Linked DNA regions of Homo sapiens. The protein of the gene in region 2 purifies or fractionates together with the protein of the main gene of each other region. This does not show direct contact. Each region holds a gene or a part of one and is shown on either strand. Other genes may lie near its edges.

What was found. Proteins that work in one complex are often made in the same cells at the same time.
Region 1: the proteins of SMIM12 (region 2) and VRK1 purify together in Homo sapiens (affinity purification with mass spectrometry; one large-scale study listed by BioGRID and IntAct). This does not show direct contact.

Annotation. Positions count from the first base shown.
Region 1 is NC_000014.9:96,849,264-96,852,915, reverse strand, and holds part of VRK1 (serine/threonine-protein kinase VRK1), read right to left. Parts: intron 86-3,652; coding exon 1-85. UniProt on the Homo sapiens protein: Serine/threonine kinase involved in the regulation of key cellular processes including the cell cycle, nuclear condensation, transcription regulation, and DNA damage response.
Region 2 is NC_000001.11:34,857,602-34,861,353, reverse strand, and holds the start of SMIM12 (small integral membrane protein 12), read left to right. Parts: upstream 1-1,604; 5' UTR 1,605-1,677; exon of another isoform or gene 1,678-3,752.

The sequences.
Region 1 (3,652 bases), on a different chromosome or scaffold from region 2:
AGTTTTCCGAGAAAACCTTTTGGCATTTGCTTCATATATTTTCTGAAGGTCACTCCCAAAGCGATCCATTATCATAAACCTGTAACTGAAGACAAATATGAAAAGCCAATGAACAAAATACAATGCAAGAAAACCAACTTTGTAATGAGTACTCTCAAAGTAATTTTTTCAAGACAATGTTTAGTAAAGAAGTATTCTTTAAAAAAGAAATACAAACATTTGAAACAATTTCTCCCAACTAGAAATCTCAAAGAGTTCAGAGTGCTTTCAGGTCCTGCTTTTTACCTGGAGGGCCTCTTCCTGGTCGCAGCTAGTTTCAAGAGACTATTCAATTTAAGATAATGCTCACAGAGAGAACCCAACAAGTTTATTCACGGTAAAAATAAAACAAGCTGAATAAAAATGACAGCATTGATTTTTCTCATAGTTAAAATTAATTCATGTTTCTGGATATCAGCTTCCTTCCTGTGACTGTTTCTCCTTATTTTTAAGGTATATTTCAGCAGTAACAACATTCTGCTAAAATCAAGATTCTCGTGAGATGCTTTAACAAAAGCCAGATTCAATACCATTGTTTAAATGGCGTAAAAGGATTGTACATTAAACACTCAATGGCCAAGATTTGGGGAAAAACAAATATCCTGAAAAAACATGAAGATAACTGGCTTTGCATAAAGCAGCTATGTCACCTTGGCTGAGTCACATTACTTCCTGGGCCTCAATTTCCACAGAAGTAAAATGAGAGAGCAGGGACTCACCCTTTCTAAGGTCACTTTCAACACCCAAAACTCAGATTCAATAATCACGTTATATTTCAGTATGTACAGAAAAGCATCACCTATTTGCAATAACACTGCTTAGCTTCTGCTCTGAGGACCACTTTTATCTTCAATAGTTTTCCAGATTCTAACTTGTCTGGTGAAATCATTCAGTAAATCAATAAAAATCAAAACCACACTCAGAATGTATCAGGACATCTCCAATGAGGAAGATTATGAATCATCAACACCATAACATCTAGCATTTACTGAACACCTGGTATGCACACAGCACTACTGTAAGTACTTAAAACGTTATTAATGCATTTAAACCTCACATCACTCTATAAAGTAGGTAACTCCTATCATACCCATTTTACAGCAGAAGAAAACTGATAATTTGTCCTCTAGTATGTGGCAAAATCATGCTTTTAACCCCTGTACTACATATTAACTGAAATAAATGTCAGTAGGATACAAAAATCCCATTTATATGTTATAGGCTTCTATGATAACAATATGACAAGTTCAATAGGGAAGGAAGAGTTGACTAACATTAAAAGACAAGATGTTGAACAAGTAACTCAGAATTCTATTCATTTTTGAACTGGAAGAAAATTAGAAAATCATCTTGTCTAAACATCTTTTAATAAATAAAATAACTAAGGTCTTTGGAGGTAAAGTGATTTGTCCAAGGTTATAAAATTAGTCAGTGGTGGCCGGGCCTGGTAGTTCACGCCAGTAATCTCAGCACTTTGGGAGGCCAAGGCTGGTGGATCACCTGAGGTCAGCAGTTCGAGACCAGCCTGGCCAACATGGTGAAACCCCGTCTCTACTAAAAACACAAAAATTAGCCGGGCACGGTGGCAGGAACCTGTAATTCCAGCAACTCGGGAGGCTAAGGCAGGAGAATTGCTTGAACCTGGGAGGCGGAGATTGCAGTGAGCCAAGATTGAGCCACTGCACTCCAGCTGCACGACAAGAGCAAACTCCACCTCAATTAAAAAAAAAAAAAAATTTGTGACAAAATATATTCATTCATGTAAGATTTCCTAGCACCTTGGCTTGTAAGATAATAAAGTGAAAATGGTAACTTTGACTTCCTGGTTTCCTTTGTGTAACAGATTTTGCAAGGTTGAGAGATGAGACCAGGGCACATATACATGTTGGCTTTTACTAAATAGGTGATGTGTGTAATGATTATAACATAGGATGAGCATCTCAAATCTGAAAATCTGAAATCAGAAGTGCTCCAAAATTAGAAAGTGTTTTTAGTGCCAACAAGATGTTCAAAGGAAATGCTCACTGGAGCATTTTGGATTTCCCATTTTCAGATTTGGGATGCTCAACCAGTAGGTATTAACGCAAATATTCCAAAATCCTTAAGAAATCCCAAATCTAAAATACTTCTGGTGCCAACATTTCAGATAAGGCATACTTAACCTGTAATACACAGGTAACAAAAATACAACCTCTGTAACAGCCTGAAAGGTGGCTAAAACACAACTGCTTAATTCAACATGGGGTCTATTAATAAATTCTGTTACATAGGTCTTTGTTTTTATTCACAAATCACCCTACCACTACTCTTAATAAGACCTTAATCTTGTCACCATACCTAAATCATAAACATCAACTGAAACATGATTCCACAAATTTCACAGAAACCATTACCACATTCTTCTGGAAAGACGGCTCTACCATTGAGTAGTAAAATGAAAGCTATTTCTAAGTAACTCCTCTAAAGTAAAACCTTTGATGTATACTTTTCTGGAGACTTGGATAAAATGTGCAAGTAAAAGAAAAATATAAATCAGTGTAAAATAATTTAATAATGGTAGCAGCTAACATTGCTCTAAGCCCTACATACATATTAATTCAAATGAGTTACAAGGAAAACTAAGCATGTCTGGCATGGAAGGGGGCTGGAAGAATAATCTACTTTCTATTTCTTTACTTTCTAAGACCTATAATGATTCTTTTTAAGAGCTTCAACCTAAAAAGTAAATCAATGCCTGATATATGACTAATGCCATCTTTTTAAAGGAGACATTTCTAGCAACCTCATTTTATAGAAGAAATGGGCTGGGAGGTAAAGTCATCACTAGTAAGTGGTGAGTTAAGACTTAGACTGTGTTCTCATTTGTCACCACACTCTAAGGCACTTCTGATCCACACCAGGGAAGTTCTTTCCAGCAGTGCCCAAGTCAGTCAGCTTACAGAGTCAACCTTGGACCCACTTAGTCCCTGGTCACCTCACAGGAGTCACACAAACAAAAGCCCTGTTTAACTGGTTCTGAACTTTATCATAAAATGGGTGATAAGAATGTATATGGTAAAATGTGATATGACAGTGTGGGCTACTTTTAAAAAGACCATCATTCTCAAGCAACATACCACCACTGACAAACAAAAATCATAGACAAACAAATGAAACCAATTATGATAATCACAGTGATGATGACTGCAAGAAACATTTCCTCAGCACTTACTCTGTGCCCCTTACAATTTACATGTTTTCAATTCATCTTCACAGTAATTCATAAAGTAAGCACTATTATCCTCATCTCACACATAGGGAAACAAGAGAGACAGAAAGTTAACTAGCCCATGACCACACCTGATGGAGTCAAGTACAATCAATCTAGTGCTAGATTTGTTTGGTGTTTAGGTTTTGCTGCAATATACCGTGCTTGGTTTTTTTTTTTTAAGACGTTTATACTCAAATTATGGAAAGAGGAAAAGGCTGTTATTCCAAGTCTAAAAATGCTCTAGCCCCAGGTACACTTTTCTTCCAATCATCTCTATGAAATGTGGTTTTCATAATGTACTGTTCCTTAGGAATATAACTATTGTATACTGGAGCACACAGTCAAACAGATTTGCTTCCTAGC
Region 2 (3,752 bases):
TCCCTTTTCTCCATCTTCACTGCCAGAGCTTAGCTTTGAGCTGTTTGAGATAATAGAGGAAGGGTGTCTAATGTGATAAGCAGTCTATGTATGAGGCTTCCTCTGGAGGTGACCCTTAAGCTTGAAAATTGTGCCAGAGCACAATCTGGCATAGTAAAGAAAGGTGGGAAGGGCACTACATGGCCAGGCACGGTGGCTCATGCCTGTAATCCCAGCACTTTGGGAGGCTGAGGCGGGCGGATTGCTTGAGCTCAGGAGTTCGAGACCAGCCCTAGCAACATGGTGAAACCCAGTCTCTACAAAAAGTACAAAAATTAGCCAGGCCTGGTGGTGTGCATCTGTGGTCCCAGCTACTCGGAAGGCTGAAGTGGGAGGATCACTTGAGCCCAGGAGGTTGAGGCTGCAGTGAGCTATGATTGTGCCACTGCACTCTAGCCTGGGCAACAGAGCGAGAGTCCTGTTAAAAAAAAAAAAAAAAGCGGCCAGGCGCAGTGGCTCACGCCTGTAATCCCAGCACTTTGGGAGGCCGATGCGGGCAGATCACCTGAGGTCGGGAGTTCGAGACCAGCTTCCCCAACATGGAGAAACCCCTTCTCTATTAAAAATACAAAATTAGCCGGGCGTGGTGGTGCATGCCTGTGATCCCAGCTACTCAGGAGGCTGAGGCAGGGGAATCACTTGAACCTGGGAGGCGGAGGTTGCGGTGAGCCGAGATCACGCCATTGCACTCCAGCCCAGGCAACAAGAGTGAAATTGAACAACAACAACAAAAAAGGTGGGAAGGTAGATGAAAAAGCATCAATAAGGCACTGAGGTGTGAAACAGTGTGGTCTGCCGGGTTTAGTATGTGCGAGCAAAATAAATATGCAGGCTGAGATTAGTGGGATGAGGGTGGGAAGGGCCTTGTGGGAGCATTAACAAGCTTGAGCTTTGGGACTTTTCTGTATATGATAAAATTGATGTCTGTATAGGGTACAGTGGGGACACAGAGGAGGAAGTGAATACTTGTACCCAAGAGGTCATGTAAGACTTAGGTTTTACTATATTTGAATTATTTTTACACTAACAATAGCCACATTTATTTCCCTGCTGGCTGTGTGCCTGCCACAGTACTTTACAAATATTATCTCTTCCAACCCTCACACCATCCTTGCGAAATGGGTGTTATTACCTCTACACAGAAGGGGAAGGGAGGCTCAGACAGGTTAATAATGTTCCCAAGGTCACTAGAAAGCTAGCCCGGATCCCAAGAGGTCTTAAAGCACTAAAATATACTCTTCTAAGAAGAGCTTCTTGAGGTCAGGGATCATGTCTTTTGTTTTTGCGTGCCCAGACCTAGGTCTTAGAAGACGCCTAATAAACATCAGTTGAAAAAAATGACTGGATGATCTTTCACTTTTTCCACGCAGAAAACACGTGGCGACATCACTGAGAAACCTCCCGGCCAACAGAGGGCGCGACGTCCATTTCAGCGCAGTGGGGCCCAGTTGCGGACGCCTAGCTTCCTTCCGTCCTTTGGCTGAAGTTCAGCCAATCCCTGCGCTCCGAGAGAGCCGGCGGCCAGTGGGCAGGGTCACAGGGCAAGGTCCCGCGGGCCGCTGGGTGCGGCGACTTCCGTGCTCCCGGCGAGCGGGCGGAGAGCGGGGGCCGCACTGGGGAGTGTGGGCTGGGCCGCAGGTGAGCGCGCGGTCCCGGCGAGCAGGTCGGGTCAGCCCAGGCCAGTAACCTCTGAGTTACGGGAGGAGTGATCGCTAGGGTCCACCCCGGTCCCGGCCAGATCTGCCAGCTCCCCTCTCTGGCGGGTGTTCTGGTGCCAAGTCTGGGAGCCCAGGTAGCCCTCCGCAGACAGGGCTTCTCGGCACCTCAATGAGGACGGACGTTGATGAGGCCATGAATGAGGTGGGCTAGGGACAGGGGACCGGGAGACTCACAGAAGGGAGAAGGGTAGCCATTTGGATGGACCTTCGCCTTACTTGCGCTCCCATTCCTGGACTGCGCTCTAGTGACTGTCAGGGCTAATTCTTCCGCCTTCTCAGGCCTCCTGTGTCCTTGTTAGTAGTTCTTGAATTTGGGACTACGGCTTCTGGCCTCGTTGGGCCTCCGGGCCCTCGCACTGGGGCAGGTTTCCCAGCAGCCCAGTTGACCTTTACCGGATGCTTTTGGCAGACGTCCTCCATGCCGGGCTGGAAATATGCGTCACAGTGTTTTTCAGACACTTTTGCCTCTTTCATTGTGATACCCTGCCTGGGGACGACTATGATGGAGTCTTTAGGTTTTTGTAATCAGCAAAGGCATCTGTTATGCTCCTGCCACCTTTTGGGGGAGAGTGGGTGGAGGATGTTGTGATTTTACACTAGGGAGTTTGGGCTGTCATTCATTCGTTCAGCAGACCTTTTTTGGGCACTCTGCCAGGCAGGGTAGGAGAGGTGCCTGGATGGATAGGGCATAATTGGGCCAGACAGACACGGTTCTTAGCCTTTTGGAGCTTAAAGTGTCTTGAGAAACGCAGACAGGGTAAGCCAGCATCGTGCCTGACACAGAGTAAGTGGTTATAAGTGTCGAATAAAGGAATGAATTGACTTATTTGGGAATGATTAGAATGTGAGCAGGACGGTAGCGAGAGACTTTATGCTGCATGTGAGAGATAGTTGTGAACTCATGCGCGATATGTTTTAAGACAGGTTTGGAAATCTGAACGGACAGTTGCTATTTAGGGAAGCATTTACTTATACAGAGGACTTGCTTTAAAGGTGGAAGTAAAATGGAGAAGTATTAGGTTTGGGATTCTTCAGAGGTGCCTCTTTTAACTATTACTATGTCTCTGAATTTCATAAATCCCTGAGTACAATCTCAGAGTTTGGGAAAAGGAAAGCTCTTCTAGGTAATGAAATGCCAGGCTGATGGGAAAAAACTGTAGGAAGCTCTCCCTAAGTCCAGGGTTTGGACAGAAACCGTATACCTCTGCAGTGTGTTCTTCCCACTAGAAAGAGTGTAGGCTTTGAAATTGGAGAGGCCTGGGTTCAAAATCAGTGGCTCTATCACTTCTAGTGATCTTGGATAAGTTAACATAATGTCTGTGAGCCTTTGTGGCCTTCACAAGAGTCTGGGCTAATAATTCCTACATCATAGAGGTGTTATGAGGATCAAATGATGATTAGTGTGTAAATTGTCATCATAGTGCCTGGTGCTGAGACAATAAGCGGGGGAGTCTTGGAGATGCTGCAATTTTTTTTTTTTTTTTAAATTTCATGATGCTGCCTTATTGCAGGGGTCCTTAACCCCCTGGGCCACAGACCAGTGGTGGTCTTCAGCCCATTAGAAACTGGGCTGCACAGCAGGAGGTGAGCGGTGGGCAAGCTGGCAAGCATTACCGCCTGAGCTCCACCTTCTGATAGATCAGCAGCGGCATTAGATTCTCACAGGAGTGCAAACTCTATTGTGAACTGCGCATGTGAGGGATCTACGTTGTGTGCCCCTTATGAGAATCTAATGCCTGATGATCTGAGCTGGAACAGTTTCATCCCGAAACCATCCCTCTCCAACCCCCATCTGTGGAAAAATTGTCTTCCACGAAACTGGTCCCTGGTGCCAAATATAGATTGGGGACCGCTGCCTTATAGTGTTACGTCTAGAGAACATTGGGATTCCTTCAAAGAGAATTGGAACCAAAGAGAGAGGGGGAGAATCATCTTATCCTTGGTGAGGTTTCGATTGTTCACTTTAGATCAGAGATAGTAGTGTTGGAGAAATAC